Linked DNA regions of Homo sapiens: all the other regions are linked to region 4. The links come from fine-mapping of genetic effects on gene expression. A gene starts in region 4. Each other region holds a variant in brackets. All regions are shown on one strand. Distances are between the middles of the regions. Region 1 has its middle 3.9 kb from the start of LINC02019. Region 2 overlaps DCAF1 (DDB1 and CUL4 associated factor 1). Region 3 overlaps DOCK3 (dedicator of cytokinesis 3). Region 4 holds the start of HEMK1 (HemK methyltransferase 1, mitochondrial release factors N(5)-glutamine).

Evidence for each region. PIP is the estimated chance that this variant, and not a neighbour inherited with it, causes the effect. A credible set is the group of variants that fine-mapping cannot tell apart.
Region 1: its variant is the best candidate, but not a certain one, in a credible set for the expression of HEMK1 in whole blood (INTERVAL, PIP 0.72).
Region 2: its variant is the best candidate, but not a certain one, in a credible set for the expression of HEMK1 in whole blood (TOPMed, PIP 0.51).
Region 3: its variant is the best candidate, but not a certain one, in a credible set for the expression of HEMK1 in nasal epithelium (TOPMed, PIP 0.58).

What each region holds. Positions count from the first base shown.
Region 1 is chr3:50,661,737-50,669,362 of GRCh38, reverse strand. No RefSeq gene overlaps it. Among named protein-coding and RNA genes, the nearest start is that of LINC02019, 3.9 kb to the left of the region's middle. The variant C/T (reference allele first, on the strand shown) is at 2,662.
Region 2 is chr3:51,491,054-51,498,679 of GRCh38, reverse strand. DCAF1 (DDB1 and CUL4 associated factor 1) reads left to right here. Exons shown (of 25, transcript NM_001387579.1): 2 at 1,900-1,946. Among named protein-coding and RNA genes, the nearest start is that of DCAF1, 5.1 kb to the left of the region's middle. The variant C/T (reference allele first, on the strand shown) is at 3,586.
Region 3 is chr3:51,106,160-51,113,785 of GRCh38, reverse strand. All of the region lies in intron 9 of DOCK3 (dedicator of cytokinesis 3), which reads right to left. Among named protein-coding and RNA genes, the nearest start is that of MANF, 280 kb to the left of the region's middle. The variant G/T (reference allele first, on the strand shown) is at 3,410.
Region 4 is chr3:50,565,202-50,572,827 of GRCh38, reverse strand. HEMK1 (HemK methyltransferase 1, mitochondrial release factors N(5)-glutamine) reads right to left here and starts at 3,306. Exons shown (of 11, transcript NM_016173.5): 1 at 3,254-3,306; 2 at 1,496-1,897; 3 at 1,027-1,118; 4 at 620-713. The coding sequence starts at 1,723. C3orf18 (chromosome 3 open reading frame 18) reads left to right here and starts at 5,081. Exons shown (of 6, transcript NM_016210.5): 1 at 5,081-5,365; 2 at 6,734-6,822; 3 at 6,967-7,362. The coding sequence starts at 7,129. RefSeq lists an enhancer at 3,382-3,501 and a silencer at 4,940-5,449.

The sequences.
Region 1 (7,626 bases), 97 kb before region 4:
GAGAAGAGACACTGAACCAATAATCACACAAGCAAATATCTAATGAGAGACACAAGGACAGGTGCAGTGGCTCACGCCTGTAAATCCCAGCACTTTGGGAGGCTGAGGCGGGCAGATCATTTGAGGCCAAGAGGTCGAGACCAGCCTGGCCAACATGGCGAAACCCTGTCTCTACTAAAAATACAAAAATTAGCCAGGTGTGGTGGTGGGTGCCTGTAGTCCCAGCTACTCGGTAGACTGAAGCAGTAGAATCACTTGAACCCGGGAGACAGAGGCAGAGGTTGCAGTGAGCAAAGACTGCACCACCACTGCACTCCAGCGTGAGTGACAGAGCAAAACACCATCAAAAAAAAAAAAAAAAAAAAAAAAAAACGAAGAGAGATACAAGTACTAGGAAAGAAGAGAAAGAGAAAGGGTACATGTACAGAGGGAGCCTCAGCCAGGGATTCTGACCTAGTTTGCAAATAGGGAAGACTTCCTGGAGGAAATGATATTTAAACTGGAGGCTGACAATACATACAAATTAGCCAAGTAAAGAAGAGAAAAGTGTTCTAGACAGAGCAAGCAGCATTTGGGAAAGGTGAATCTGGTGAAGAAGGAGCTTAACGTATCCAAGGAATGGAAAGGCCAGTGTGACCAGGACATGATGTGTGAGCGAGCAAGTGGGGAGTGGGGAGAAATGTGCGGACTAGAGTGGAAGATAGGGGCAGCCGCTGGGGCCTTGCCACGTCCCATGACATTAGGGAACCAGCCATTGACAGACCTTGGGTCAGAAGCAGAGATAAGAGACATGAATAAGAACATGATCTCCCCTCAAGGAGATCCTGGGCTTGTTGAGGGAACAGCCTAGGAAAAGGCCTATCCTCTTGAGTCCTGGGCTCAGAGGCACCACTGCACATTCCCCAATTCTCTGAGCACCAACAAAGTCTGTGCAGAAGCATCTAGGACCACTGCTCACACAGGACCACTCCAGGCTTCTTTCTCCTCCTTGAGCCAATCTTTCCTTTGTTCTCAAGATGGCACATCTGTGCCAGGCTCCAGCGCTCATCTCCCGGGTTTGGAGGGGAAGCACAGCTTACCTCCCTACACAGCCCACTCTCCAGGTTCTGTGACCCACTGCTTTAGCTGTGGTCTCAACACCTTGCTTGTCCCTCACACCCCTGCCCATGCTAAGGGTCCAGGGAAAGAATGTTGCCAGGGGCACCAACAAGCAATTGGCCCTGAATCTGATCAAGGATTACTGCTAATCTCTTCCTTGAGGAACATTTAATACAGGATGCCAAAAAAGAGAAATCTTTAGAGAATTCTCTCACAAGATCACACCTTAGGACTTGTACTCGGAACATGCAGGGCCCTGACCCAGGGAGCAGCAGGAATAGTACTCACTCTGTCACCACTGAAGAAGAGCAACTCTAAGAAATGGGGACTATTCTGTTCTCCAATTAGCATTGAGGGTGATGGATCAGAATTTATAATATGCAGTTATGAGTTATGGAACAATCAGAGAAGTGATCCTGATTCAGAAACCTGCCATTCCAGGAGCCATGGCAATTTTTCATGAGAACTCATCATGGGGTGGCCCCTGCCAAAACCTCACTTGCACCCAGCCTGTCCCAGCCCCAGTCTGTCACTCCAGCCCACTGACAGCCTCAGGCTTTTTCAAGTTTCAGGTGACCTAGCAACAGGGAATAGAACTTGAGAGCTCTGGAGTCAGAGCTGGGTTCACATCCAGCTCCAGATAGATACTTCCTAGCTGGGTGACCCCAGGCAAGTAGCTTAATCCCTCTGAACCGAGTTTCTTCCTGTCAGGTGGGAATCAGAATGGCTTCTACATCAGGGATGCTTCTGAGGATAATGCCTGCAAAGTTCTCAACACAGAGCCCGGCACAAGGTAAATGCTCACTAAACTTTGGAACCTTGCTCCCCTCCTACCAGCTCAAATTGCTTCCCAGAAATGCTGGGTCTCCTTGCATTTGTGGAATCTGCTTCTCCTCCAAGCTAGCCTGCGAGAGCTGGTTTGGTCACCCCTGCGCAGCTGGGCTGGCCTCCTGCGTCTGCCTCTTACCAGCCAGCACTTAACTCAGCATGAGCCTCTTCTCTCTATTTAACACCAAAAGAAATTGATTTCCCTAAGCTATTTCCATGATGCAGCACCCCTGAGAACTACATATTGCATCAGTTCTCCTCCATGACCATCAAACCCCCTGCTCACAGCCACTCTCCCTAGAGCCACAGGGTCCTCAGCTGCCAAGGCATAGATCTGTTTCATTTTGCACTTGCTTAAAGGTCAAACATGAATTTCTCCCCATTATTGTACTGTGTCTTGTCACACAGACTGTCTGTTTCATGGATTAGTCATAGTCTTGCTATCAAATTAGATATTCCTCAGTAGTTATTTTTAGATAAATCTTTTTCTAATTCTACACGGTGCAATGATGTGTGTGCACCCACAGCTCTGGAATCCAGGCATTACCAGGTGGGTTCCAAATTGTATGAGAGTTCACATTCCTCCAGAAAGCAACAGCCAGTGGAGCAGTGGAGTTTGTAACCTAGCTCTGTCCATGGACTCTTCTGTCCAGCCCAAAATAATTAATCCCCATGTCTTGGATAATCCAATCACTTATCATCAGTCCAGTAAAAGCCCAAAGGAGGCTTGTGACA[C/T]AATTGTGAGTTAAGCAAAACATGTCTATGCCATCCCAACCTCTTGTTTGACTCTCTCCTTGATCTTAGTACAGAGGCACCAAAGGCAATTGTGCCTTCATGCCCTGCACCCCCATGGAAGACTGCCCTCGGGAAAGGCCCTGCCACCCTCCTGACTGAGACCTGAGTGAATATTACTGGTTATATCCCTGCTTGCTCCCATGGTTCTGCCTGCACACTCAGACCAGCGTCCATAGGGAAATGAGGTCCTCAGAACAGAATTTTAGACTTAACTGGGGTGAGTGTGCATGGAGAAGGAAGGGCTTGCTAAGAGGGAGTCCTCTTCACCTACTCCAAGGCACTTTGAAGATAAGAAGCTGCACATACCTTGGGCTTTAAGGACCTCATATAGTTGGTCCAGCATAGTTGAAGCAACAAAACCCATAGTAACTCTATTTTTTTTTTTTTTTTTTTGAGACGGAGTTTAGCTCTGTCACCCAGGCTGGAGCGCAGTGGCACGATCTCAGCTTACTGTAAGTCCCGCCTCCCAGGTTCACACCATTCTCCTGTCTCAGCCTCCCAAGTGGCTGGGACTACAGGCGCCCGCCACCATGCCCAGCTGTTTTTTGTATTTTTTAGTGGAGACGGGGTTTCAGCGTGTTAGCCAGGATGGTCTTGATCTCCTGACCTCATGATCCACCCGCCTCGGCCTCCTAAAGTGCTGGGATTAGAGGCATGAGCCACCGTGCCCGGCCAACCCATAGTAACTCTGTTAATTCAAGACAGTATTTAGCATTTGCTCCTGGGGTATGAACTGTGAGGAGGGGGGCAGATTTCCCATTCCGATGCTTTCTTCTATGTGTCGGTCTCCACTGGCCGGGATGTGTGGGGCCTCACTTACCCAAAACAAGTGAGACTAGGGGAAGGGGGAAAGTCAGCCCAGCACAGACCCATGTGACTTCACACTAAGCCACTTCCTCCTTTAAGCCTTCTTCAATAAAGAAGATAATGCTTTGGCCTCCATCTGAGTTTTTATCTCTCCATTGTTCAGAACTTGGATGAGGGAAAGAGGACTACTTATTGGTGACCCTGTCAGAGAGCCCCTATAGACTATAAATGCTTCAGCTGTTCAGAGGCAGGGGAGGCTGAGTGGATTGGAAAAATCTGGGAAGGCTCGGCTGAGGAGGCAAGGTCTCAGAGGATGAGTTTAAGTGGATATGACTCTCGGGGGTGGTATCATGAACCAAAGCACAGAGGCAGGAAGAGCAAGATGAGTGGGATGCAATGACGAGGCCAGTGTGACCAGAGCCCAAGACTTCCTTGGGGGTGGGGGCAGGGTGGCAGGTGGGTGGAGGCAGACTATGAAGAATTCTGAGTAGTCAGTAGAGACTAAACTAGTCAGTGGGTCAAAGTATATTTTCTGAAGGCTCTTCAGGGTCCAGGGGAAGTGGCTGGGGATAGTCAATGTTGGCTTAGAGGAGTCTGTGGGGCAGGCCAGGAGGCTGCTATGAGGCATTTAGAAGGAAGAGTGCAACCATGAAGACCGGCTGAAGGCGTGGAGACAATGTAGGAGGACACAGAGATTTGACCTTGCATCATTCTAGCTGGTGAGAACAGCCCTAGCAGGGCTGATGAGCCATTCAGAGAGCCCACGGGGAAAGGTACAAATTTGGGTCACCTGATGGAAACTGCTTCCTCCCGTGAGGAGAAATAGAATAGTAAATGAAAAGATAGGAAAATGAACATCTTCTTTAACTACCAAAGAAAGACAAATTGAAGCCACAAGAAGACCCCTTCTCTTTTCTTTTCTTTTCTTTTCTTTTTTTTTAAGATGGAGTCTCGCTCTGTCACCAGGCTGGAGTGTAGTGGCACAATCTCAGCTCATTGCAACCTCTGCCTCCCGGGTTCACGCAATTTTCCTGCCACAGCCTCCCAAGTAGCTGGGATTACAGGGACACACCACCAAACCTGGCTAATTTTTTGTATTTTTAGTAGAGACAGGCCTTCACTATGTTGGCCAGACTGGTCCCAAACCTGACCTCATGATCCACCTGCCTCTGCCTCCCAAAGTGCTGGGATTACAGGCTTGAGCCACCACGCCAGGCCAAGAAGACCCCTTCTTTGGCCTATCATATAAAAAATTTTTCTTTTTTTTTTTTTTAGACAGAGTCTCACTCTGTCACCCTGTCACCCAGGCTGGAGTGCAGTGGCGCAATCTCAGCTCACTGCAAGCTCCGCCTCCTGGGTTCATGCCATTCTCCTGCCTCAGCCTCCCAAGAAGCTGGGACTACAGGCGCCTGCCACCATGCCCGGCTAATTTTTTGTATTTTTTTTTAGTAGAGATAGAGTTTCACCGTGTTGGTGCTCACTGCAAGCTCCGCCTCCTGGGTTCATGCCATTCTCCTGCCTCAGCCTCCCAAGTAGCTCTACAGGCGCCTGCCACCACACCCGGCTAATTTTTTGTATTTTTTTTTTTTTAGTAGAGACGAAGTTTCATCATGTTAGCCAGGTTGGTCTCGATCTCCTGAACTCGTGATCCACCTGCCTCTGCCTCCCAAAGTGCTAGGATTACAGGCGTGAGCCACCACACCTGGCCTTTTTTTTTTTTTTTTTTTTTTTGAGATGGAGTCTCACTCTGTCGCCCAGGATGGATGCAGTGGTGCGATGTCAGCTCACTGCAGTGTCTGCCTCCCAGGTTCAGGCAATTCTCTGCCTCAGCCTCCTGAGCACCTGGGATTACAGGCACGTGCCACCACACCTGGCTAATTTTTCTATTTACTTAGTAGAGACAGGGCTTCACCATGTTGGCCAGGCTGGTCTCGAACTCCTCACCTCAAGTGATTCACCCGCCTCGGCCTCCCAAAGTGCTGGGATTATAGGCGTGAGCCACCGTGCCTGGCCCAAATAAAAAAATTTTAATGGGCCGGGCACGATGGCTCAAGCCCGTAATCACAGCACTTTGGGAGACCAAGGTGGGCAGATCACGAGGTCAGGAGATCAAGACCATCCTTGCTAACACGGTGAAACCCAGTCTCTACTAAAAATACAAAAAGTTAGTCGGGCGTGGTGGCGGGCGCCTGTAGTCCCAGCTACTCAGAAGGCTGAAGCAGGAGAATGGCATGAATCCAGGAGGCGGAGCTTGCAGTGAGCCAAGATTGCGCCACTGCATTCCAGCCTGGGCGACAGAGCGAGACTCTATCTCAAAAAAAAAAAAAAAAATTAATGACTGTGTGCAAGCAGTTAGTGTAATAGTAGGCTACTTATTTGAAGTAGGGTGGGTCCAGGTGACCCTCCCACCAGCACTGTGGCAAGTGGGTATCAAGAACTTCCCCCAAAAAATGTTAGTTCTGTGAAAATGGATTGAGATAAGTTTCATTTCTATAGATATCCAATGTAACATTGTCTATAAATATTGGAAATAATCCAAATGACTACCAGTAGGGGATGAAGTTATTGAACATGGGACATTACCCCATGCAATTGTATGCAACCAATAACAACCATGAAATCAATCTATCAACAAAAAGAATGTCTAGTGTGTCACATTCAGCAAAAAACAATCAGGCCCAAAACTCTGTTCACAGTGTGGTTATAATTATGCAAGAACAATCACGTGCAGATACAAACCAGAGTAAAATATACCAAGAAGAGACCCTTTCCTCCTTTCTGCAATTTCCCAATGATTATGTGTTGCTTCTCTGACACATTTACCTGTGTACAGCCGTATCACTTTCTCAGAGAATAATACACAGAGACGGGACATGGAGCTGGGCAGCACTGGCAACCCTGTACTCTGGAGCCCACCCTCTTTGGAGCTCATCCTTCCTGCTAATGAGCAGGGAGTAGTTTTCAAAGCTAGGCTCTTGTGATAGAGAGCTGTGACAGGACTGAACATGGATTCTTGTACCTGATTCATCCTTCCTAGCCTAGCTCATCTACTCATCCACTCTGGCCAACCCAGGCCCTGACTTCCAGAACATAGGACCCATTTTTATCTTTCTCTATGGCCCCTGAGGGCTCTGGTCAGCCAGAGGAGAAGCCCAGAGCTCAAGGCTCCTCGTGGGGTGCCTGGAAAAAGGCTGCCACTCCCCTTCACTGCACTCACTGTCTCTACCTCCATATCTACAGCTCCCATTTCTCCCCATTTGGGCTTCCAGCCCTGTTGTTCCACTGAAACGTCCATGCCAAGGCCACCAAGGATGTCTGTGGTGGCAAATCTGATTATTGCTTCTCTGTCTTCATCCTACTTTTCCTGTGCAACAGCATTCAACACAGTGACCATCCCTTTTTTTTTTTTCTGAGACAGAGTCTCACTCTGTCTCCCAGGCTGGAGTGCAGTGGCACGATCTCAGCTCACTGCAACCTCTGCCTCCCGGGTTCAAGCGATTCTCCTGCCTCGGGACTCCTGATTAGCTGGGACTACAGGCATGTGCCACCACACCTGGCTAATTTTTTGTATTTTTCGTAGAGACGGGGTTTCACCGTGTTAGCCAGGACGGTCTCAATCTCCTGACCTCGTGATCCGCCCACCTCAGCCTCCCAAAGTGCTGGGATTACAGGCCTGAGCCACCCGCCCAGCCGTGACCATCCCTTTCTTATGATACTTGCTTTTAGAAGCTTCCAATAAACTATACCTCTTGTTTTTTCTCTTAGCCGGCTGCTCCCTCTCAGTCTACTTTTCTGGATCCTTCATGTCTCCCCAACCTCTGCCACAGGATTGAGTCCCCTTTTCATCTCTCTGCACATTCTCTCCTCTTGTCTGATCTTGTGGCTTTGGACCCCATATAAATCATGATGTCTCCCAAAGCTGTGCCACAAGATTCATCATTTCAACTGCCTTCGTGACACCTTGAATGTCTAATAGTATCTTGAAATGAGAGTGGCCAATGCTGCAAACCATCCCCTCCACATACAGTCTCCTCATCTTAAGAGACAGCACCTCCATCTCTCTAGCAGCCCAAGGCAACACTCTAGCAGTCACCTTGG
Region 2 (7,626 bases), 930 kb before region 4:
TAGGGAAATCATTTTGTACTTAGTATCTCTTGCGTAGTTGCTGAGTACAGTGTTTTACTGTTCTGCCTATTATACAGTTTTAAAATTTTTTATTTTTATTCATTTATTTTTTATAGAGACAGTGGTCTCAGTATGTTGCCCAGGCTGGTTTTGAACTCAAGTGATCCTCCCTGGTCAGCCTCCCGAAGTGTTGGAATTACAGACATGAGCCACTACACCTGGCCTGTTTTTTTAGATACAGGATCTTGCCCTGTAGCCTAGGCTGGAGTGCAGTGGTGTGATAACTCTTTTTTTTTTTTTTTTCTTTTTTCTTTTTTTTTGAGACAGCGTCTCATTCTGTTGCCCCAGCTAGAGTGCAGTGGCGCGATCTTGTCTCACTGCAACCTCCGCCTCCCAGGTTCAAGTGATTCTCCTGCCTCAGCCTCCGGAGTAGCTGGGACTACAGGCACGCGCCACCACGCCCGGATAATTTTTGTATTTATAGTAGAGATGGGGTTTCAGCATATTGGCCAGGCTGGTCTCAAGCTCTTGTCCTCGTGATCTGCCCACCTCGGCCTCCCAAAGTGCTGGGATTACAGATGTAAGCCACTGCGCTGGCTTTTTTTTTTTTTTTTTTTTTTTTTTTTTTTTGAGACAGAGTCTCACTGTGTTGCCCAGGCTGGAGTGCAGTGGCGCGATCTCAGCTCACTGCAAGCTCCGCCTCCCAGGTTCACGCCATTCTCGTGCCTCAGCCTCCCAAGTAGCTAGGATTACTGGTGCCTGCCACCACGCCCGGCTAATTTTTTGTATTTTTAGTAGACACAGGGTTTCACCGTGTTAGCCATGATGGTCTCGAGTGTCATCATAACTCATTGCAGCCTCCAACAACTCCTGGGCTCAAAGGAGCCTGCTGCCTCAGCCTCTTGAGTAACTAGGACCGCAGTCACAGGCTAACATGATTGGCTAATTTTTAAATATTTGTGTCGACTGTGTCTCAAAATGTTGCCCAGCTGACCTCAAGCAATCCTTCCGACTTGGCTTCCCAAATTGCTGGGATTACAGGCTTGAGCCACTGTGCCTGTCAATTTAAAAAAAATTTTTTTTTCTTTTTTTTGAGACGGAGTCTTGCTCTGTTGCCCAGGCTGGAGTGCAGTGGTGCAATCTCGGCTCACTGCAACCTCCACCTCCCGGGTTCAAGCGATTCTCCTGCCTCAGCCTCCCGAGTAACTGGGACTACAGGCGCGTGCCACCATGCCCAGCTAATTTTTGTATTTTTAGTAGACACGGGGTTTCACCATGTTGGTCCGGCTGGTCATGAACTCCTGACCTCGTGATCCACCGCCTAGGCCTCCCAAAGTGCTGGGATTACAGGCGTGAGCCACCGTGCCCGCCTATTTTTATTTTTTTTGAGACAGTCTTCCTGTGTCACCTAGCCTGGAGTGCAGTGGTGCGATCTTTGCCCACTGTAACCTCTGCCTCCCAGGTTCAAGCGATTCTCATGCCTCAGCCTCTGGAGTAGCTGGGATTACAGGTGTGTGCCCCCACGCCTGGCTAATTTTTTTATTTTTTGTAGAGATGGGGATTTGCCGCGTTGGCCAGGCTGGTCTTGAACTTTTGGCCTCAAGTAATCCACCCACTTCAGTCTCCCAAAGTGCTAGGATTACAGGCATGAGCCATAGTGCCTGGCAAACAGTTGTTAATATTATGCCATATTTTCTCTATTTGTGTGTGTGGTATCTATATATATATTTTGTGGAATCATTTGAAAATAAGTTGCAGGCCTGTCATCCCTAAATACCCTAGCAGATGCTTGTTAGGATAAGAAAATTTTACATAAGTATTTCTTGAGGCTTTATATTATCCCATCATGGGGACAATATTGTCATTTAACCCCGCACAACAACTGTTTCCATCTTGCAGATAAGGAAATTGAGATTTGGAGAAGTTAAATAACCAAGACTTCACAGGTATGTCAGCAGAGTTGGGATTTGAATCCTTGAAACCTTTTTTCTACCTAGTACTAGCTGGTCTTGGGGACCTCTCTGAGCTAGTTTCCTCATGTGTGAAAAAGGGTAGGATGGTTGTGAAAATTCAGAATAATGTAAGTATGGTAAATTACTTAGCTCAATGTCTGTCCCATACTAGATATTCACTAATTGGTAACTACCGTGTCACCATTGGACAGACCATCATTTCTTCATAGCACTTAAAGGAACTCACTTAAGAACTTGAGTAATGCACCCTTATTGTCTTGGGCATAACAAGGTGAAGATGACTGTTTTCTTTGCTCTTGTTGTGCAAGCTGGAGTGCAGTGGCGCGATCTCGGCTCACTGCAACCTCTGTCTCCTGGGTTCAAGCGATTCTGCTGCCTCAGCCTCCGGAGCAGCTGGGATTACAGGCGTGTGCCACCATGCCTGGCTAATTTTGTTGGTATTTTTAGTAGAGATGCGGTTTCACCATGTTGGCCAGGTGGTCTCGAACTCCTGACCTTGTGATCTGCCGGCCTCGGCCTCCCAAGGTGCTGGGATTACAGGCGTGAGCCACTGCGCCCGGCCTAATTTTGTATTTTTAGTAGAGACAGGGTTTCTCCATATTAGTCAGGCTGGTCTCGAACTCCCAACCTCAGGTGATCTGCCTGCCTTGGCCTCCTAAAGTGCTGAGATTACAGGTGTGAGCCACTGTGCCCGGCCTTTTTTTTTTTTCCTTGAGACAAGGTCTCGCACTTTTGCTCTGGCTGGAGTACAGTGGTGCAGTTATGGCTCACTGCAGCCTCCACCTCCTAGGCTCAAGCAGTTCTCTTGCTTCAGCCTCCCCAGGTAGCTGGGACTACAGGTTGCAGTGAGCCAAGATTGTGTCCCTGCACTCCCGCCTGGGCAGCAGAGCGAGATTCCGTCTCACAAAACAAAAAACAAACACAAAAAAACGAACATTGAAGTAAGTACTACTACTACTGATTTTTAAATTTTTTTCATAGAGGCAGGATTTCACCATGTTGTCCAGGCTGGTCTCAAACTCCTGGGCTCAAGCGATCTGCCCACCTAGGTTTTCCAAAGTGCTGGGATTACAGGTGTGAGCCACCACACTCAGTTGCTGACTGCTTTCATTGATACTATGTTAATTCACATTGCTATTATTAGTTAAGTCTGTTACAAGTTTATATTTTCCTTTATTTAGTCTGTTACAAGTTTATATTTTCCTTTATTTATGTATTTAAATAATAAAGACAAGGTCTTACTGTTACCCAGGCTGGTCTCAAACCCCTGGGCTCAAGTGATCCTCCTACCTCAGCCTTCCAAAGTGCTGGGATTACAAGTGTGAGCCACCACGCCTTGCCTTTATATTTTTTTATTCTTTATTATTCTTAATATTTTTTTTGAGATGGAGTTTTGCTCTTGTCGCCCAGGCTGGAGTGCAGTGGTGCAATCTCGGCTCACTGCAACTTCTGCCTCCCGGGTTCAAGCGATTCTCCTGCCTCAGCCTCCCGAGTGGCTGGGATTGCAGGCGCCTGCTGCCACGTCCGGCTAATTTTTTGTATTTTTAGTAGAGACAGGGTTTCATCATGTTGGCCAGGCTGGTCTCGAGCTCCTGACCTCAGATGATACACC[C/T]GCATTGGCCTCCCAAAGTGCAGGGATTACAGGCGTGAGCCACCACGCCTGGCCTATTTTTTATTTTTTTAAATAATAGAGACAAGGTCTCACTAAGGTTTATATTTTCCTTGGGCAAATGGTTATTCCCAAAGTTATAATTATCTTCAGGCATAGATTAGTTGGAAGTTCTGAAAATGATACCAGAAGTATATATGTATATGTTTCTAAGTTGAACTCTAAAATTTTAGTGTTTTAGGCCAGGCATGGTGGCTCATGTCTACAATCCTAGCACTTTGGAAGGCCAAGTGGAGAGGATTGCTTGAGCCCAGCAATTTGAGACCAGCCTGGGTAACATAGTGAGACCCTGTCTCTACAAAATAATAAAAATTAAAAAATTTTAAAAATATAAAATTTTAGTGTTTTAATGCCCTTGAATTAATCTTTATTAGAGGTAGTGTTTTTTAAAAAATCATGTCTTTATGTGCTCTAGTAGGCTAACTGCTTAAGTTATCTAAGAAGCAGTCTCTTCTGGATCATTTCTTTTCTCATTAAAAAATTGTGGTAAATTTACGTAGCATAAAATTAACGACTACCCATTTTGAAGTGTACAAATCAGTGGCGTTTGTAGATTCACAGTGTTGTGCAACCATTATCTCTTTCTAGTTCTAGAATATTTTTATCACCTTAAAAGGAAACCTCGGCCGGGCGCGGTGGCTCACACCTGTAATCCCAGCACTTTGGGAGGCTGAGGCGGGTGGATCACGAGGTCAGGAGATTGAGACCATCCTGGGTAACACGGTGAAACCCCGTCTGTACTACAAATACAAAAAAGTAGCCGGGTGTGGTGGCCGGTGCCTGTAGTCCCAGCTACTCGGGAGGCTGAAGCAGGAGAATGGCATGAACCCGGGAGGCGGAGCTTGCAGTGAGCCGAGATCCTGCCACTGCACTCCAGTCTCTGGGCGACAGAGTGAGACTCCATCTCAAAAAAAAAAAAAAAAGGAAACCTCATACCCATTTAGCAGTCACTGCCCATTTTCCCCTTTCCTCAAGTCCTTGGCAACTACTAGTTAGCTTTCTGTATATTGATTTACCTATTTCAACTTTTTTTTTTTTTTTGAGACGGAATCTCGCTCTGTCGCCCAGGCTGGAGTGCAGTGGCGCAATCTTGGCTCACTGCAACCTCCGCCTCCCAGGTTCAAGCGATGCTTCTGCCTCAGCCTCCTGAGTAGCTAGGACTACAGGCGCATGCCACCACGCCCGGCTAATTTTTGTACTTTCAGTAGAGACGGGGGTTTCACCATGTTGGCCAGGCTGGTCTCGAACTGTTGACCTCATGATCCACCCGCCTTGGCCTCCCAAAGTGCTGGGGTTACAGGTGTGAGCCACCATGCCCAGCCTTCAATGTTTTATATAAATAGAATCATACAATATGTGCCCTTTTGTGTCTGCTTTCTTATTGTTTTCAAGGTTTTTCCACATCTGTAGCATGTTACTACTTCATTCATTTCTATGACTGAATATTCCATTGTATGCATATACCACATTTTGTTTATCTCTTCATCTGATGATGGACTTTTGGGTTGTTTCTACTTTTTGGCTATTGTGAATAATGCTACCAAGAACATTTGTGTATAAGTCTTTGTTTGAATTCCTTTTTTTTTTCCCCTGAGATGGAGTTTTGCGCTCATTGCCCAGGCTGGAGTGCAATGGCGTAATCTTGGCTCACTTCAACCTCTGCCTTCTGAGTTCAAGCGGTTCTCCTGCCTCAGCCTCCCCAGTAGCTAGGATTACAGGCATGTGCCACCATGCCTGGTTAATTTTGTATTTTTAGTAGAGATGGGGTTTCTCCATGTTGGTCAGGCTGGTCTTAAACTCCCGACCTCAGGAGATCTGCCCGCCTTGGCCTCCCAAAGTGCTGGGATTAGAGGTGTGAGCCACCACACCCAGCCTTGTTTTCAGTTCTTTTGGGTATATATCTAGTAGTGAAATTGCTGGGTCGTATAGTAATTCTACATGTGACTTAAAAAAAAAAACCTGCAACTTTTTGAGAGAGTCCCAAACTGTTTTTTATAACTACTATACCCTTTTACATTTCTTTTATTTATTTATTTATTTTTTTGAGAGGGAGTCTTGCTCTGTCACCCAGGATGGAGTGCAGTGGCGCGATCTCGGCTCACTGCAAGCTCCACCTCCCGGGTTCACGCCATTCTCCTGCCTCAGTCTCCCGAGTAGGTGGGACTACTGGTGCCTGCCACCACGCCCAGCTAATTTTTTGTATTTTTAGTAGAGATGGGGTTTCACCATGTTAGCCAGGATGGTCTCTGTCTCCTGACCTCGCGATCCGCCTGCCTCGGCCTCCCAAAGTGCTGAGATTGCAAGCATGAGCCACCGCGCCCGGGGCCACCCTTTTACATTTCTACAAGCAATATGTGTTCCAGTTTCTTCACATGCTTGCTAATGCTTATATTTTCTCATTTCTTAAACTACAGTCATGTTAGTAGGTGAGAAATGATATCTCATTATGGTTTTGATTTGCAGTTCCTAGTGACTGATGTTGAGTATCTTTCATGCGTTTCTTGGCCTTTTTTTTGTTTTTAAGACAAAGTCTCACTCCTTTTGCCCAGGCCGGTGTGCATTGGGGTAATCTCGGCTGACTGCAACCTCCGTCCCCTCCGAGTTCAAGTGATTCTCCTGCCTCAACCTCCCGAGTAGCTGGGATTACAGGTACCTGCCACCATGCCCAGCTCTTTTTTGTATTTTTAGTAGAGATGGGGTTTCAACTTGTTGGCCATACTCGTCTCAAACTCCTGACCTCAGATGATCTGCCTAAAGTATTGGGATTATAGGCATGAGCCACAGCACTCGGCCCATTTTCGCATATACTGTGAGGCAAAGATCCAACTTCGCTGTTTTGTGGGATAATATCCAATTGTCTCACTACTTTTTTTTTTTTTTTGAGACGGGTCTTGCTCTGTCACCAGGCTAGAGTGCAGTGGTGCAGTCTCGGCTCACTGCAACTTCCGCCTCCCGCAGGTTCAAGCGATTCCCCTCCCTCAGCCCCCCCGAGTAGCTGGGACTACCAGTGTGTGCCACCACACCTGGCCAATTTCTTGTATTTTAGTAGAGATGGGGTTTCACCATGTTGGCTAGGATGGTCTTGATCTCCTGACCTCGTGATCTGCCCACCTCGGCCTCCCACAGTGCTGGGATAACAGGCGTGAGCCACTGTGCCAAGTCTCATCAGTACTTTTTTGTTTGTTTGTTTTTTGAGATGGAGTCTTGCTCTGTCGCCCAGGCTGGAGGGCAGTGGCGCTGTCTCAGCTCACTGCAACCTCCGCCTCCTGGATTCAAGCAGTTCTCCTGCCTCAGCCCCCCTGAGTAGCTGGGGTTACAGGCGCGCCACCATGCCTGGCTAATTTTTGTATTTTAGTAGAGATGGGGTTTCACAATGTTGGCCAGTCTGGTCTCGAACTCCTGCTCAAGTTATCTGCCTGTCTTGGCCTCCCAAAGTGCAGGGATTACAGGCATGAGCCACTGCACCTGGGCAGCACTACTTATTGAAATTACTTTTTTCCTATTGAATGGTCTTGGTACCCTTGTTGAAAATTGATCATAGATGTGAGTGCTTATTGCTGGATTATCAATTCTATTGTATTTGTCTCTGTGTTGATCCTTATGTCAGTGCCATGCTGTTCCATTTACTATAGTTTTGTAGCAAGTTTTGAAATCAGAAGTGTGATTTTTCCAACTTTTTTTTTTTTTTTTGGAGACATAGTCTCGCTCTGTTGCCTTGCTGGAGTGCAGTGGCGCAATCTTGGCTCACTGCAGCCTCCGTCTCCTAGGTTCAAGCGGTTCTCCTGCCTCAGCTGTCCCAGTAGCTGGGATTACAGGTGCGTGCCAACACGCCCAGCTAATTTTTGTATTTTTACTGGGGATGGGGTTTCACCATATTGGCCAGAATGGTCTCGATCTCTTGACCTTGTGATCCACCTGCCTCGACCTCCCAAAGTGCTGGGATTACAGGTGTGAGCCACTGCGCCTGACCCCGACTTTGTTTTT
Region 3 (7,626 bases), 540 kb before region 4:
TCAAATAGCAAGGTTTGAAAGAACTATAATGACAAAAGATTTGTTGAACTACTGGGCACTGCAGAATACAGGAAAATTCTGAGTATCAGTGTTGGGGTATGAGGGATTAACAGGTATATTAGATCACTGATGGAGACATCTATGTGAGTCCAGTGATTTATCTGGGGTCTTGCAGTGTCTCAGTGTCTTATGACTGGAAGTCTGTCTGATTTATAGTCCAAGGGAAGCTGTCAGCAGCTCTGGAGTCAGGGTGGATTAGTGTTTCTGGTACGTGGATTAATGTTCGAGAAGCTTCAGAGTTTTAGTGATGGTACAGCTTCTAGCAATAGTATGTGGGGGCCAATACCAGTAGATTACTGGGGTCTTCTAGAGGTCAATGGCTGAGGAAGCCCAGAGTTTGGCAACTGAAGGGGAATTGTTGTGGGGTCAGTCACTGGGGTCCTGAAATGTTCAATGTTTTAATAACCTGCAGAGTCAGTGTCACCTCTTTAGAGAGGTCATGCCTAACTGCCCTACTTTAAAAAGTGCCATGCCCTATTTCTGTGATTCTCATTGCTTCATTTTCTTTGAAGAATTTACCTCATGCCAGTTATATATATATATATTTATCCTCTATCTCCCCCTCTAGAACATAAACTACAAGAATACAGGGATTTTCTCTGTCTTGTTTTATGCTGAATCCCCAGCAGCTGGAACAATATCTTATATATGGTGGGCATACAATGTGTTTTGAATAAATAAACAAGAAGAATATTATAGATATAATCTCAAATCCACTCAAATTTATAAGAAGTAAATGTTTTTCAAATCAGCACTGTATTAGTAACAAATTACTTATAATACCCTCTTAATACCTTTTAGATGTAGCAGCTCTACCCAAAATCCAACAGAGTCCTTGAGCTCAGCTGTCACAGGCACTAGTTCTTCACCTTTCCTACACATTGAAATCATCTGAGAAATCCTGTTTTAATTAATCTGTAGAGTGGCCAGGATATTAAAAACTTTAATTGTATGTGCATTTAAGATTAAGAACTCCTGGTTTAAAACCTGTCCACTCCTTTTGCATACCCTCCTGTGGCTAATGGCTTCTACATACACTCAACAGTCGCCCCTCCCACTTCACATACCTCTAAAAACAAGTCTCTTGAATGTGTCCTTTTATCTTTATTGTCACTTCCACTATCCAGGTTGCAAACTATGCCATCTTTCTTTTTCTCTCTTAATGTACCAAAGTACAGTTTACATATGGCAATAGGCACAAATCTAAGTATACAACTTGATGAATTTTTGCTTAGGGAATCACCATGGCATATCATGATGCAGAATTAATTCCACCATCTAAAAGGTTCTGTTGTGATCTTTCTAGTGAATACTACCAACCATGACTATAGTTCAGGTTTGCCTATTCTTGAACTTTACATAAACAAAATCATTCAATATGTATCCTTTTGAGTCTGGCTTTTTTACTTATAATTTTTTCTCTATTCTTTTTTCCAAAAAATTTATTAGTGCTACAATGAACATATGCATGCATGTGTCTTTATAACAGAATGATTTATATTCCTCTGGGTATGTACCCAGTAATGGGATTGCTTAGTCAAATGGTAGTTCTGTTTTTAGGTCTTTGAGGAACTGCCACACTACTTTCCACAATGGTTGAACTAATTTACACTCCCACCAACAGTGTATAAGTGTTCCCTTTTCTCCACAACCTCACCACCATCTGTTATTATTATTATTTTTTACTTTTAAATAGTAGCCATTCTGACTGGTGTGAGATGGTATCTCATTGTGGTTTTGATTTGCATTTCTCTAATGATCAGTGATGCTGAATTTTTCATATGCTTCTTGGCCACGTGTATGTCTTTTTTTGAAAAGTGACTGTACATGTCCTTTGCCTACTTTATATTGAAGTTGTTTTTTTCTTGTAAATGTGTTAAGTTTCTTATAGATGGATATTAGACCTTTGTCGGGTGCACAGGTTGCAAAAATTTTATCTTATTCTGTAGGTTGTCTGTTTACTCTGTTGATAGTTTCTTTTCCCATGCAGAAGCTCTTTAAATAGATCCCATTTGTCAATTTTTGCTTTTGTTGCAATTGCTTTTGGTGTTTTCATCATGAAATCTTTGCCTGTTCCCATGTACACAATGGTATTGCCTAGGTTGTCTTCCAGGGTTTTTATATTTAAGTCTTTAATCCATCTTGAGTTGATTTTTACATATGGTATAAGGAAGGGGTTCAGTTTCAATCTTCTGCATATGGTTAAGCAGGTATCCCAGCACCATTTCTTGAATAAGGAATCATTTCCCCATTGCTTATTTTTGTCAGCTTTGTCAAAGAGCAGATAGTTGTAGGTGTATAGCCTTATTTCTGGTCTCTCTATTCTGTTCCACTGGTCTATGTGTCTGTTTTTGTACCAATACTATGCTGTTTTGGTTACTGCAGCCTTGTAGTATATTTTAAAGTTAGTGTATTTAAAACAACAAAGTAGAGTAGCATGATGTCTCCTGCTTTGTCCATTTTGCTTAGGATTGCCTTGGCTATTCTAACAATACTGATTCTTCCTATCCATGAGCATGGAATGTTTTTCCATTTGTTTGTGTCATCTCTGATTTCTCTGAACAGTGTTTTGTAATTCTCATTGTAGAGATCTCTCACCTCCTTGATTAGCTGTATTCCTACATACTTTATTTTTGTGTGTGGCAATTGTGAATGGGACTACCTTCCTGATTTGGCTCTCAGCTTAGCTGTTGTTGGGTATAGGAATACTAGTGATTTTTGTACACTGATTTTGTATTCTGAAACTTTGCTGAAGTTGTTTATCAGCTTAAGGAGCTTTTGGGCCGAGATTATGGGGTTTTCTAGAATAGAACCATGTCATCTGAAAACAGAGATAGACTGACTTCTTCTCTTCCTACGTAGAGGCCTTTTAATTCTTTGTTCTCCCTAATTGCTCTGGTCAGGTTTCCAACAATCTGTTCAATATGAATGGTGAGAGAGGACATCCTTGTGCCAGTTTTCAAGTGGAATGCTTCCAACTTTTGTCTATTCAGTATGAGGTTGGCTGTGGGTTTGTCATAGATGGCTCTTATTATTTTGAGGTATGTTCCTCCAATATCTAGTTCATTGAGAGTTTTTAACATGAAGAAATGTTGAATTTTTTTGAAAGCCTTTTCCGCATCTATTGAGATAATCATGGGGTTTTTATCTTTAGTTCTATTTATGTGTTTAATCACATTTATTCATCTGAGTATGTTGAAATCAACCTTGCATACCAGAGATAAAGCCTACTTGATCACAGTGGATAAGCTTTTTGGTGTGCTGTTGGATTTGGTTTGCTAGTATTTTGTTGAGGATTTTTGCATCAATGTTCATCAAGGATAATGGCCTGAAGTGTCTGTTGTTGTTG[G/T]TGGTGGTGGTGGTGTGTCTCTGCCAGGTTTTGGTATCAGAATGATGCTGACCTCATAGAATGAGTTGGGGAGGAGTCTCTTCTCATTTTTTGGGAATAGTTTCAGAGGAATGGCACCAGCTTTTCTTTGTATATCTGTAGAATTTGGCTGTGAATCCGTCTGGTCTAGAGCTTATTTATTTATTTATTTATTTGGCTGGTAGGCTATTTATTACTGATTCAGTTTTGGAGTTTGTCATTTGTCTGTTCAGGGATTCAATTTCTTCCTAGTTCAGTCTTGGGAGGGTGTATGTACCCAGGAATTTATCCATTTGTTCTGAATTTTTTAGTTTGCATGCACAGAGGTGTTCAAAATACTCTCTGGTTGTTACCTGTATTTCTATGCGGTGAGTGGTAATATTCCCTTTGTCATTTCAGATTGTGTTTATTTGAATTTTTTTTTTTTGAGACAGAGTTCACTCTGTTACCCAGGCTTGAGTGCAGTGGTATGATCTTGGCTTACTGTAACCTCTACCTCTCAGATCCAAGCAATCCTTCCACTTTGGCCTCACGAGTAGCTGGGACTACAGGTGTGTGCCACCATGACTGGCTAATTTTAGTATTTTTTGTAGAGATGGGGTTTTGCCATGTTGCCTAAGCTGGTCTCAAATTCCCAGGTTCCAGTGGTCCACCTGGACCTCTGGACTTGGCCTCCCAAAGTACTGGGATTACAGACATGAGCCATTTCATCTGGCTGGGTCTTCTCTCTTTTCTTATTAGTCTAGCTAATGGACTATTTTATTATTTTTTTCAAAAAATCATCTTGATTCATTGATCTTTTGAATTTTTTTGTGTCTCAATCTTCTTCACTTCAGATCTGATTTTGGTATTGGTTATCTTCTGCTAGCTTTGAGGTTGGTTTGCTCTTGCTTTTCTAGTTCTTTTAGTTGTGATGTTAGGTTGTTAGAGATCTTTCTAGCTTTTTGATATGAGTGTTTAGTGCAATAAAGTTCCCTCTTAACACTGTCTTAGCTGTGTTCCAGAGATCCTCATATGTTGTATCTTTGTTCTCATTAGTTTCAAAGAACTTGATTTCCACCTTAATTTCATTATTTACCTAAAAGTCATTCAGGAGCAAGTTGTCCAATTTCCCTGTAATTGTGTGATTTTGAGAGATTTTCCTATTCTTGAATTCTATTTTTATTGCTCTGTGGTTTGAGAAAGTGGTTGATGTGACTTTGCTTGCTTTGTATTTGCTGATGATTGTTTTATGTCTAACGGTGTAGTTAATTTTAGGGTATGTGCCATGTGCAGATAAGAATGTATATTCTGTTGTTTTGGGGTGGAGTTTTGTAGATGTCTATCACATCCATTTGGTCCAGTGTTGAGTTCAGGTCCTGCATATCTTCACTAATTTTCTGCCTTGATGATCTAACACTGTAAGTGGGGTGTTGAAGTCTCCCACTATTGTTGTGTGGGAGTCTAAGTTTCTTTGAAGGTCTCTAAGAATTTGCTTTATGAATTTGAGTGCTCCTGTGTTGAGCGCATATATATTTAGGATAGTTAGGTCTTCTTGTTGAATTGAACCCTTTACCATTATATAATGCTCTTTTGTCTTTTTGATCTTTGTTGGTGTGAAATCTGTTTTGTCTGAAATCAGGATTGCAATCCCTGCTTTTTTCTGTTTTCCATTTGCTTGGTAGATTTTTCTCCATCCCTTTATTTTTAGCCTATGGGTATCAATGAATGTGAGATGGGTCTCTTGAAGACAGCATACCACTGGGTCTTGCTTCTTTATCCACCTTGTTACTCTGTGCCTTTTAATTGGGGCATTTTGCCCATTTACATCCAAGGTTAGTAGTGAATGTGTAAATTTTATCCTGTGTTCGTGTTTATTTGTTTAAGCTATTTGCTAACTTGTGTGGCTGCTTTATAGTGTCACTGGTCTGTGTACCTAAGTGTGTGTATGTGGTGGTTGGCAATGGTCTTTCCTTTCCATATTTAGTGCTTCGTTTAGAAGCTCTTGTAAGGCAGGTCTGGTGGTAACTAATTTCCTCAGCATTTGCTTGCCTGACAAGGATCTTCTTTCCCCTTTGCTTATGAAGCTTAGTTTGGCTGGATATGAAATTCTTTGCTGAGATTTCCTTTTTTTAAGAATGATGATACCAGCATGGCAAAACCCTGTCTCTACTAGAAACATAAAATTAGCCAGGCATGTGCCTGTAATCCCAGCTACTTGGGAGGCTGAGGAGAACTGCTTGAACCCAGGAGGTGGAGGTTGCAGTGAGCCAAGATCATGACACTGCACTCCAGCCTGGACAACACAGCAAGACTCTGTCTCAAAAAAAAAAAAAAAGAATGTTGAATATTGGCCCTCAATCTCTTCTGGCTTGTAGGGTTTCTGTTGAGAGGTCCACTATTTGTTTGATGGGCTTCCCTTTGTAGGTGAGCTGTCCTTTCTCTCTAGCTGCCTGTAATATTTTTTCTTTCATTTCAACCTTGAAGAATATGATGACTTACATGTACTGGGGATGATCCTCTTGTGAAGTATTTTCTGGGAGTTTTCTGCATTTCCTGAATTTGAATGTTGGCCCTCTAGCTAGGTTGGGAAGTTCTCATGGATGATATAATGAAATACGTTTTCCAAGTTCTTTCCATTTTCCCGATCTCTTTCAGGGATGCCAGTGAGTTGCAGATTCAATCTCTTGATAATCCTATATTTATCGGAAGTTTTGTTTGTTCCTTTTCATTCTTTTTTTCTTTATTCTTGTCTGTCTTATTTCAGAAAGCCAGTCTTCAAGCTCTGAGATTCTCTCCTCAGCTTGGTCTATTCTGCTGTTAATACTTCTTCTAGAGTGTTTTTCAGCTCTATCAGATTGGTTATGTTCTTTTCTATACTGGCTATTTCGTCTGTCAGCTCCTGTATTGTTTTACTGTGATTCTTAGCTTCCTTAGATTGTGTTTCAACGTTCTTCTGAATCTCAATGATCTTCATTCCTATTCATATTCTGAATTCTATTTCTGTCATTTCAGCCATCTCAGCCCAGTTAAGAACCCTTGTTGGAGAACTGTTGCAATTGTTTGGAGGAAAGAAGATACTCTGGCTTTCTGAGTTGTCAGAGTTCTTGCACTGGTTCTTTCTCATCTTTGTGGGCTAATATTCCTTCAATATTTGAACCTGCTATCCTTTGGATGGTTTTTTTTTCCCTTTTATACTACTTAATGACCTTGGGGGTTTGATTGTGATATAAGATGGGTTCAGTCAACTAGCTTCATTACTGGAAGATTTTAGGAGACCAAGGCTCAGCTCAGGACTTCTATAATGTCTGGTTTCACTCTGGAAACTGATATCAAGCTTGGCTTTGAAATCTGGCTTGAGATTAGGAATCTGCTGCACTGGAGGGGTCAAGGTGCTCTGGGACTGCTGGTCACAACACTCTGCTGGGTGGTGCCAACCAAAGTACTTCATATGGTGGTGGCAGCGGGATCTTGTTTTCATGTGCCAATGGCAGCGGCAATGCAGTGGGGAGCACACTTGTCTGCTGGGGCAGGGTGCTAGTGGGTACTGAGGTGCCAGCTTCCATTCAAGCATTTGAAGTATGGCTGGGGGGGGCACCCCCTCCTATTAGTGACTATGCTCACATTTGCACAATGGTGGTGTTAGCACGGGGGCAGGGTACTGGTGGGAGCAGGACTGTGTGTATCCACTGTATGCGTTGATGCCGGCAGCAGTGGCTGCTCAGGGCTAGGGGCAAGTCCACTATTTTCCATGCCTAGTTTTATGCCAGCACCCCTGGTGCAGGGGCAAGGCACTGGTGAGGAAAGGAGCCCACCAACATTCTGAAAACAATGGCGGTGTGGCAGGGGGAAGCAAGGGCAAGGACACTCATGTAGGCAGGTGTGGCATGGCAGGGTGCACGCACACACACACATGCCTGCAAAGTGATATAGAGAGCGGCCATGGTGACGTGTGTGCAGGCAAAGTGGCATGGGGAGGCTGCAGTGGAGGAAGGGTGTGGGTGGGCTGCAGCCTGTCAGTGGGGGCTGCTATGCTGGAGCTCTCTGCCGACCAAGCGTGGCCTGCCAGTGCAGGAGCTATGATGTGGGTACCCACAAATTACCTGAGGGCTGCACTGATGCAGGCACAGCCAGGCTGGGGCCCTGGGAGAGGCTAGCCAACTGAGGGGTGCTCAGGTCTGACCCGGCTCTATCTCATGGGCCAGATCACCTTGCAGAGT
Region 4 (7,626 bases):
CTCTTCCAGGACCAGGGTGCCTTACCAAGGGATAACACACTTGCGCCACACATCCCTAGTCCTAGTAATTTGAGGGACAACACAGGTGATTACCAGACCAGTCAGTAGACCTAAGAGGGCCACCAGATTCTCTGGGCTGGAGGGCTAACCCTCTCATCATCTGGGCCCAGAGATGGCAGGAGGGCAGTGACCTGCCCAAGGTTGCACAGCTGATACCAGGTCTCCAGGTGTCCGGCTGGAGCCCTCTCCACTTCCTCCATGCCTCCTGAGAAGCTGCTGGAAGACATTTGTTCCCTGTGGGTTGGGTGAGCCATGGGATGGCTCCCAGAGAAATGGCAGAACAGGCTAAGTACTTGGGCAGCACTATTTGAGGCACTCTGGGCCATTGCCAGACCTAGAGGCTGGGTTGATAGCTTGGAACATAACAGTCAAGGGGACCAACAGGAATCCTCTGTCCTCTGGGCTCTGCCAACACAGTCAGAGAGGAAATACATGTCTAGAAAGGCACTGTCCCTGAAGTCATGGGGCCCCAGTGCCCCCTGGAGGAAGCCTGGGGTAAGACTGGTGCCCTGAACTCCACCATCATCCTGATCCTGCCTTGCCCTGGTGGCACACCTACCTCTGTTTCTGGCCGAGGAATAAACACTGGGGGCACCATCCTTAGGCTGAGCCCCTGGAAGTCCCACTCTCCAAGGATGTACTGCACCGGCATCCTGCAGAGGGGGCAGCTGGGTGGTCATCAGGGACAGAGCTAGGACCAACAGGACCATGCCTGGGTTGAGATACCACTTGTGGCCAAAGGTATCAGGCAAGACCATGTCTCCAGGGCCTTGGGACTCCTGAGGCAAAACCCTCCCTCCCTCCCTTCTTCCTATTCAGTACCCCGGCCCCACTCTTGCCACTCCTGCACCCCAACACCTCCCTAGTCCTTGGACATTCTCCTCCTCCCTGAACTTGGTGGGGATAGGGGAGGCTGGACTGCTGCTCCCTGAACACATCCTTCAGGTCTGATCCATGGGTGCTCACCTCTGCAATCGACGGCTACTCAGCTCCCGGATACACTGTAGTTGCTGAGAGGTCAAGGGCTGGGTCCAAAGTGCCGGCCTCAGGCTCTGAAACTGTCCCCACAGAGAATATAAGTGGCTGGCTCACTGGGCCCAAGGCCCCCAACCCAGGTGTCTTATGTGGATAATGCCTGCCCAGCACTGGTCTGGAGGCCCAACCCTCTCATCATCTGGGCCCAGAGGGGGCAGCATCCTGCCTAAGGTTACACAGCTAACACCAGGCTTCCAGGTGTCTATCCCAGAACACTTAGGCAGAGATATATTCATTCATCCAACAAACTGTTACAGTGTGTGCCAGGCGCTAAGACGTTCCTTCAGAAAAATCCCATCAGTCTCAGCTAAGCACTCTTAGTGAACAGAAAACCTGGATATCCCTTCCCCAAGTCCTCCCTCCTCCCTCTTCCTGTCCTCTTGACAACACTAAACTTAACTGTTTTGGCTCCAAGGACATGAGCCACGATGTACTCACTGGATTCCCGGGCCTCAGGGATACCCCTCTTCTCAAAGACCCCAGTCCAGTGGCTGACCAGTTCTATGGCACTGGATAACCCAGCCAGAGGTGGTTGGGGTTGCCATGAGCTGAAGGCCCAGCCCCGGGTACTTCCCCTCCTCCCTGGGCCAGACAGGAGGGCCCACAGCATTCGGCCCCAAAGCTCCATGTCTCAGGGAAAGGTTCTCCAGAGTGCTTCCAGGTTCCCAAGTCTGCTTTATGATGTCAGCTGCTGAGGTGAGTGCTGAGAGTGGCCCCTGGACCCAGCTGGGTGGAGATGGAGAGGTCACAAGCTCTGGTGCCCCAAAATGGCTCTGGTCCTCAGATATAGTTGGTTGCCACCCTGGGAGTGAGAGGAACCAGGAAAGCAGGTGAGCCTTGTATGACACCCCCCCTTCTACCAATACATTGCCTGAGAATAGTTGTGCTCTTGCTCTGACACCCCCTTGACTCCATTTAGAGCCTTACCCACCTATTTGATCATTCTTGTCTTGGCCACTTACGTTTTCTTCACATTTTTAGCTGGAGTGGGCTGAGCCCATAGCTCAGTCTCTGCTAATAAACGGGTTGGTGGTAGGTTAGGGCACATATGTGGGGACAGGACAGATCTGTGTCTAACCTAGCGTGTGTGATCTTGAGCAAGTCATTATTTCTGATTTTCACTTTCTTAATCCATAAGATGGGGGAAAATCACACCAAACCCATGGCAAGCAATGCATTAGTCTATGAATATCCAAGGCCTGGGAGGCAGCTCAACACACAGCAGGGACCAGATGTTACATGATCTTAACTGATGTTACAAGAGGCAGATGATTGCCTTTAATTGGGAGCTTTGAATCTGACATTGTGTGTGTACTGTCATGGATGTACATGCTGAAAATTTCCTCCTAATTTAACCTATAATCCGGGACATCAGCGTAAACCACCAACTAAAAAATTTACAATTGTATATTTAAAGAGGTCACAAGCAAGTTTAACTGAAGGTTTAAAATCAGCGGTCCCCTTTGCTTCCAGATAAAAGTCCAAACTAGCGTTTATTAAGCACCTGCTAAGTGCCACATCTTCAGATACAAGTAGGGTCAGAGAAGGGAAGCGACTTGCCCAGCGTCACTCAGGTAGAAACTGTCCCAGGCAAGCTGGGCACGGTGGCTCACGCCTGTAATCCCAGCACTCTGGGAGGCCGAGGTGGGCGGATCACGAGGTCAGGAGTTCGAGACCAGCCTGGCCAGCATGGTGAAACCCTGTCTCTACTAAAAATACAAAAAATTGGCCGGGCATACTGACGCGCACCTGTAGTCCCAGCTACTTGGGAGGCTGAGGCAGGAGAACTGCTTGAACCCAGTTCAAGCAGGCGGAAGTTGCAGCGAGCCGCGGTCATGCCACTGCACTCCAGCCTGGGTGCCAGAGAGAGACTCCGTCTCAAAAAAAAGAAAAAAAAGACTGTCCCAGGCAAGACACGAACCCGAGTCCACCAGACTCCAGAAGCGGCTCTTGCACCAGTGCGCCGTCCCAGGAGCCAAGGCCCGAAGTCAGAAGTGTAAACTCCCTCACAGCTACGCACCGCATTGTTAACGACCCAGATGAGGCCCCCTCTCTCCAACCCTGTTTCCCCATCTGCACTATGGAGAATGGTACCGGCCAGGTCTCCAGGCGGTTGCAGTCGAAACACCCCGTTCCGATCCCCACCTCCCATGCATACCTGCCTGAAAGGCTGCCCCACCCACCCACCAGCCGGAGAAGCTGCCCCGAACTGGACGCCCGGACGTGCGTGGCCCGTCGCGCGCTCCCTCGGACGCCCCGCTTCCGGGGTCGGCGCCTTTAAGAAAAGGCTCGGGCGGACGCCGTAGCCCAGCTTCAGTGTTCCTATCGCTGGTGGGTTCCTCCCAGGAGACCCCTGCGGATGGGTGGGGAGGCTGTGAATTCCACTCCCTCTACGCTCGCAGGCCTGCATACAGGAAAGTGCGGGGATGTGTGTGGGGTTGACCCTTGGGGGCCCGGACCTGCCGGTCTTCCTTAAAATCACAGCAGGGATTTGGCTCCAGCCCAAGGGGATTGCTCCGAGCTGGCGTTTAGGAACCAGGCCGGGAGGTGTGTGGGCGGAGCCCAGTAGCCTGCCGGAAAGGGGGCGTGTCACCAGAGGGCCCGGGTGTTCCGGCGGGGACCAGATGTCCGGGGGCGTGGTCTATCTTAGCCTGGGGGCCGGGTGGAGCTGTGCATGGGCGGGTTCCAGTGTTGAAGGCTGGTCCAACTTTGGGGTCCAGTCCCAGTGTCGTGACCCTACCGAGGTCAGTGGCCCGAGCCCACCAGGGGGTCGGCCGACTGGCGGCCAGACCCCAGGGGCCGCTCTTTTACCGATTCGAATCTTGACTCTATTGGCAACTCCTCCAGGTGTTGGGACCTCTGGACCTCAGTTGCGCCTTCTATAAAATACTCGGCAGCGTCTCGCAAAGTGTGTCTTGTCAACATCTCCCCACCAGAAAGTACTGTTAACTAGAACACTGTTAACTACTTTTTTTTTCTTTTTTTCTTTTTTTTTTTTTTTTTTTTTGAGACGGAGTTTTGCTCTTGTTGCGCAGGCTGAAGTACAATGGCGCGATCTCTGCTCACTGCAACCTCGGCCTCCGGGTTCAAGCCATTCTCCTGCCTCAGCCTCCCAAGTAGCTGGGATTACAGGCGTGAGCCAACACGACCGGCTAATTCTGTATTTTTAATAGAGACAGGGTTTCACCATGTTGGTCAGGCTGGTCTCGAACTCCTGACTTCAGGTGATCCATCGCCTCGGCCTCTCAAAGTGCTGGGATTACAGGAGTGAGCCACCACGCCCGGCCTTAAACTGCTATTAAACATGCTGTTTCCCTGCCTCCTTCCCAGACCGGGAGACACAGGGGCGTTTGCATTTGTACCAGGCTACCCGGTGACTCCCATAAACTACTTTGAAAACCGGCGGATCAGGAGTATCTGAGGGCTCCTTCCCTGAGCTGATCATGCCGTGGATGGAAGCTATTGTGAGGGTATATGTAGACTTGCCTGGGTCGGGGTGCCCAATAATAAATCCACCCCACTCTCAACTTCTGTAGACGAAGATTCCCCATCTTCGTCTAGAACCCTCACACCAGAGGACCCGTCTGAGTAGAAAGCCAAGGTTCAGGAAGGGAAAAGCAGTTTCTTCAAGGTCACAAAGTCAGCCAGAGTTCAGTGCAGGCCCAAGGACTCCCAGTCCAGTGCTCTCCCCAAGTCTCCTCTGTACATCCATCCGCGTTTTGGGGGCTTGAGTCTGTCCTGGCACGGGTAGCTGGCAGGGGTCCCGAGTTCTGGCCCGGAAGGGCCTGGCCACCCACTGTCCTCCGCCCAACTTCGGCGCAGGCCACGGGGTGAGGGTAGTCTCTAAAAACTGCGACCAGGTTCTAGGCTCCCTCTGGGGGTGGAGCCAGACCCGAGCGACAAGCGAACGGTCCAATTCTGGGCGGGCTCTAGGCCCGACAGCCAATCGGAGGCCGGGGGCGCGGAGCGTGCAGGGAGGCAAGGCGCTGTAGCTTCGGGGATCCCCCGAGGCTGCTCGGCCCGGCCCCACCTCCGCCGTGGGTCCCGGCCCTACCCACCCTAGCTCAGGCCGGCAGAGCCAGCGCTCGCGGATGCGGCTGGTGCGCAGTAGCGGGCCTGGCCAGCGGCTCGGGGCTTGCAGGGAGGGCGGATCTCGGGTCGGACCCGCAGCCCCAGACGCCGGGCTTGGGGGTTCCCCCCGCCCCGGCCTCCTGCCAGTCACTACCACCCCTAGCCTCTCCAACTGAGCTCGGCGCCGGGAGAGGATTAAGTAAGTGCTGAGGTCACTGCTCCTGTGCAAGAAGGGAGGCATCACAGGGTCGCGGAGGCGGGCATGGGGATTGGGGCAGGGAGGACTGAGAGACCTGGTGGAGAACAGCATGCGGGTTCTCGAAGGTCGCGGTGCCGACCCCTTTTACCCCGGTTTCCTTCCCTTCCCCTTTGGACCCTGAGGCAGGCCTGGAAAGTGGTCAGTAGGGCCTCTTCTCTCCTTTGGGAGGCGATGTTAACAGAGCCCCAGGGCACGAGTTAAGGGTTTGGCCCAAGGTCACGCCCGGGATCAGTTGCAAAGCCAAGAAAAGAACCCGGGACTTCCTATGTGCCCAGATGTGCCCAGCCTAGCTGGAGGGAGAAGGCAAAGAGGGATGAGCCTTTCTACCCCATAACCCTCTGCCAGCCTTGCCCCTTCCTCAGGGACCATCAGAGGTGTTTACACATCTCACACACGCCCATGCATCTGCACAGGGAGGCAACCCCACTAATGCCCATGAACCAGCACAGGGGGATGTATGCACCCACGAGCTAGGTATCCCTCCTCTCCCTAGGCCGTCCCATCTGCAGCTTGGCTGGCACCTCTTCCCACCCCACCTTAACCAGGGCCCTCTGCACTGGGCAAATCTCTCACCCTCTGCTTCCAGGGGAGGAGGGTAAAGGAAGAGAAGGCACCCACACTGGGAGCTCCATTCCTGCCTCGCCTTTCTCCTTGACCCTAGCAGCCCCTCTATTGTTGGTGGGTGGGGAGGGCAGTCCAATGTCCCCGAGAGCCTGCGGAGAAGCCCCGCCAGAGAACCAGAGCCTCTCTCTCCTTCTTGTCTTCTGGTCTTTCCACATCAGCCTCCACCCACACTCCAAGCATAGTCTGGACCATACAGTGGACTGGGTCCAGGGGCTCCCTTGGCTCCCCTTTGTGACTGGGTTGGCCATGGGGAGAAAATCTAACATGTAGTGGATGCTTACTGTGGATGGGGGTTGTGCTGAGCTAAGTCTTTCTTCGACACCTGTTTGTTCTGCCATTTCTGTAACCCCATGACCCTGTGGGGATGTTCTCAATATCCCCACCTTAGACTCAGGAAAACGGAGACACAGAGAGGTGGAGTGACTTTCTAGGGATCACTAGTTAAGCAGCTGAGCTAGGTTTCAAAGACAGGCCTGTCTGACTCTTGGGCAAGTGTTTCCCTCCAGGAAAGGAAAAAGCTGTGGTATTTTTTCCCCCAAGCAGGATGAGGGATGTGGGAGGCAGGGAATGAGGAGGTGGATATGGGGAGGTGGGGGATATGGGGACGCAGGTTGAGGGGAGTTTTTGATCAGGGGAGGGAGACTTTTTCTTTCAAACATCCCCGCTGCCTTTCATATCTTCCAGGTTTGATCACTATGATCATCTCACCCACAGACAGAGGATGCAGGGCTTCATTTTTGTTCCCAAAAACAGGGGCACCGTAGATACGTAAAGTATGTGTCCTAATGTCTCCTGAACTTACCCTCATTCTTGCCCTCAAACCTTTACCTCCCCAGTGCTTTCAGAACCTAGAGAGACTTCATCTCACTACTGAGCCCCTGTCCTTAGCCTCATGTTTCTTATTCTTTCCTTTCTAGCACCCAGGAAGGCAGGGGGCTCCCTTTATCCAAGGAGGTGGCTGTGCAGGTGGCCACCACAGGTGGCAGGAACCACAGGCTGGGGCACTCCGGAGTCAGGAGTGAGTGGGCAGGTTGACTGGCATCAGGCAGCCTCTCAGCCAGGGCCCTCTCCGCATCAGCATGAACTCCAGGACCGCATCTGCTAGGGGCTGGTTCAGCAGCCGCCCACCCACCTCTGAGTCTGACCTGGAACCTGCCACAGATGGGCCAGCCTCCGAGACCACTACCCTCAGCCCAGAGGCCACCACCTTTAATGACACCAGAATCCCTGATGCAGCTGGTGGCACGGCCGGCGTGGGTACCATGCTTCTGTCCTTTGGGATCATCACGGTGATAGGCCTGGCTGTGGCCTTGGTGAGAGCTGGGGTAGGCTGGGGGAGGATAATCAGTGTTTAGATTTATAGAGAACCTAATCAATCAGAAGACAATCTGGTTGTTGTTATTGTTGTTTTTGAGACAGAGTCTTGCTCTGTCATGCAGGCTGGAGTGCAATGGCTTGATCTCAGCTCACTGCAACCTCCACCTCTGGGGCTTAATCGAGTCTCCTGCCTCAGCCTCCCAAGTAGCTGGGATTACAGGTGTGAGCTGCCACGCCCGGCTAATTTTTGTATTTTTAGT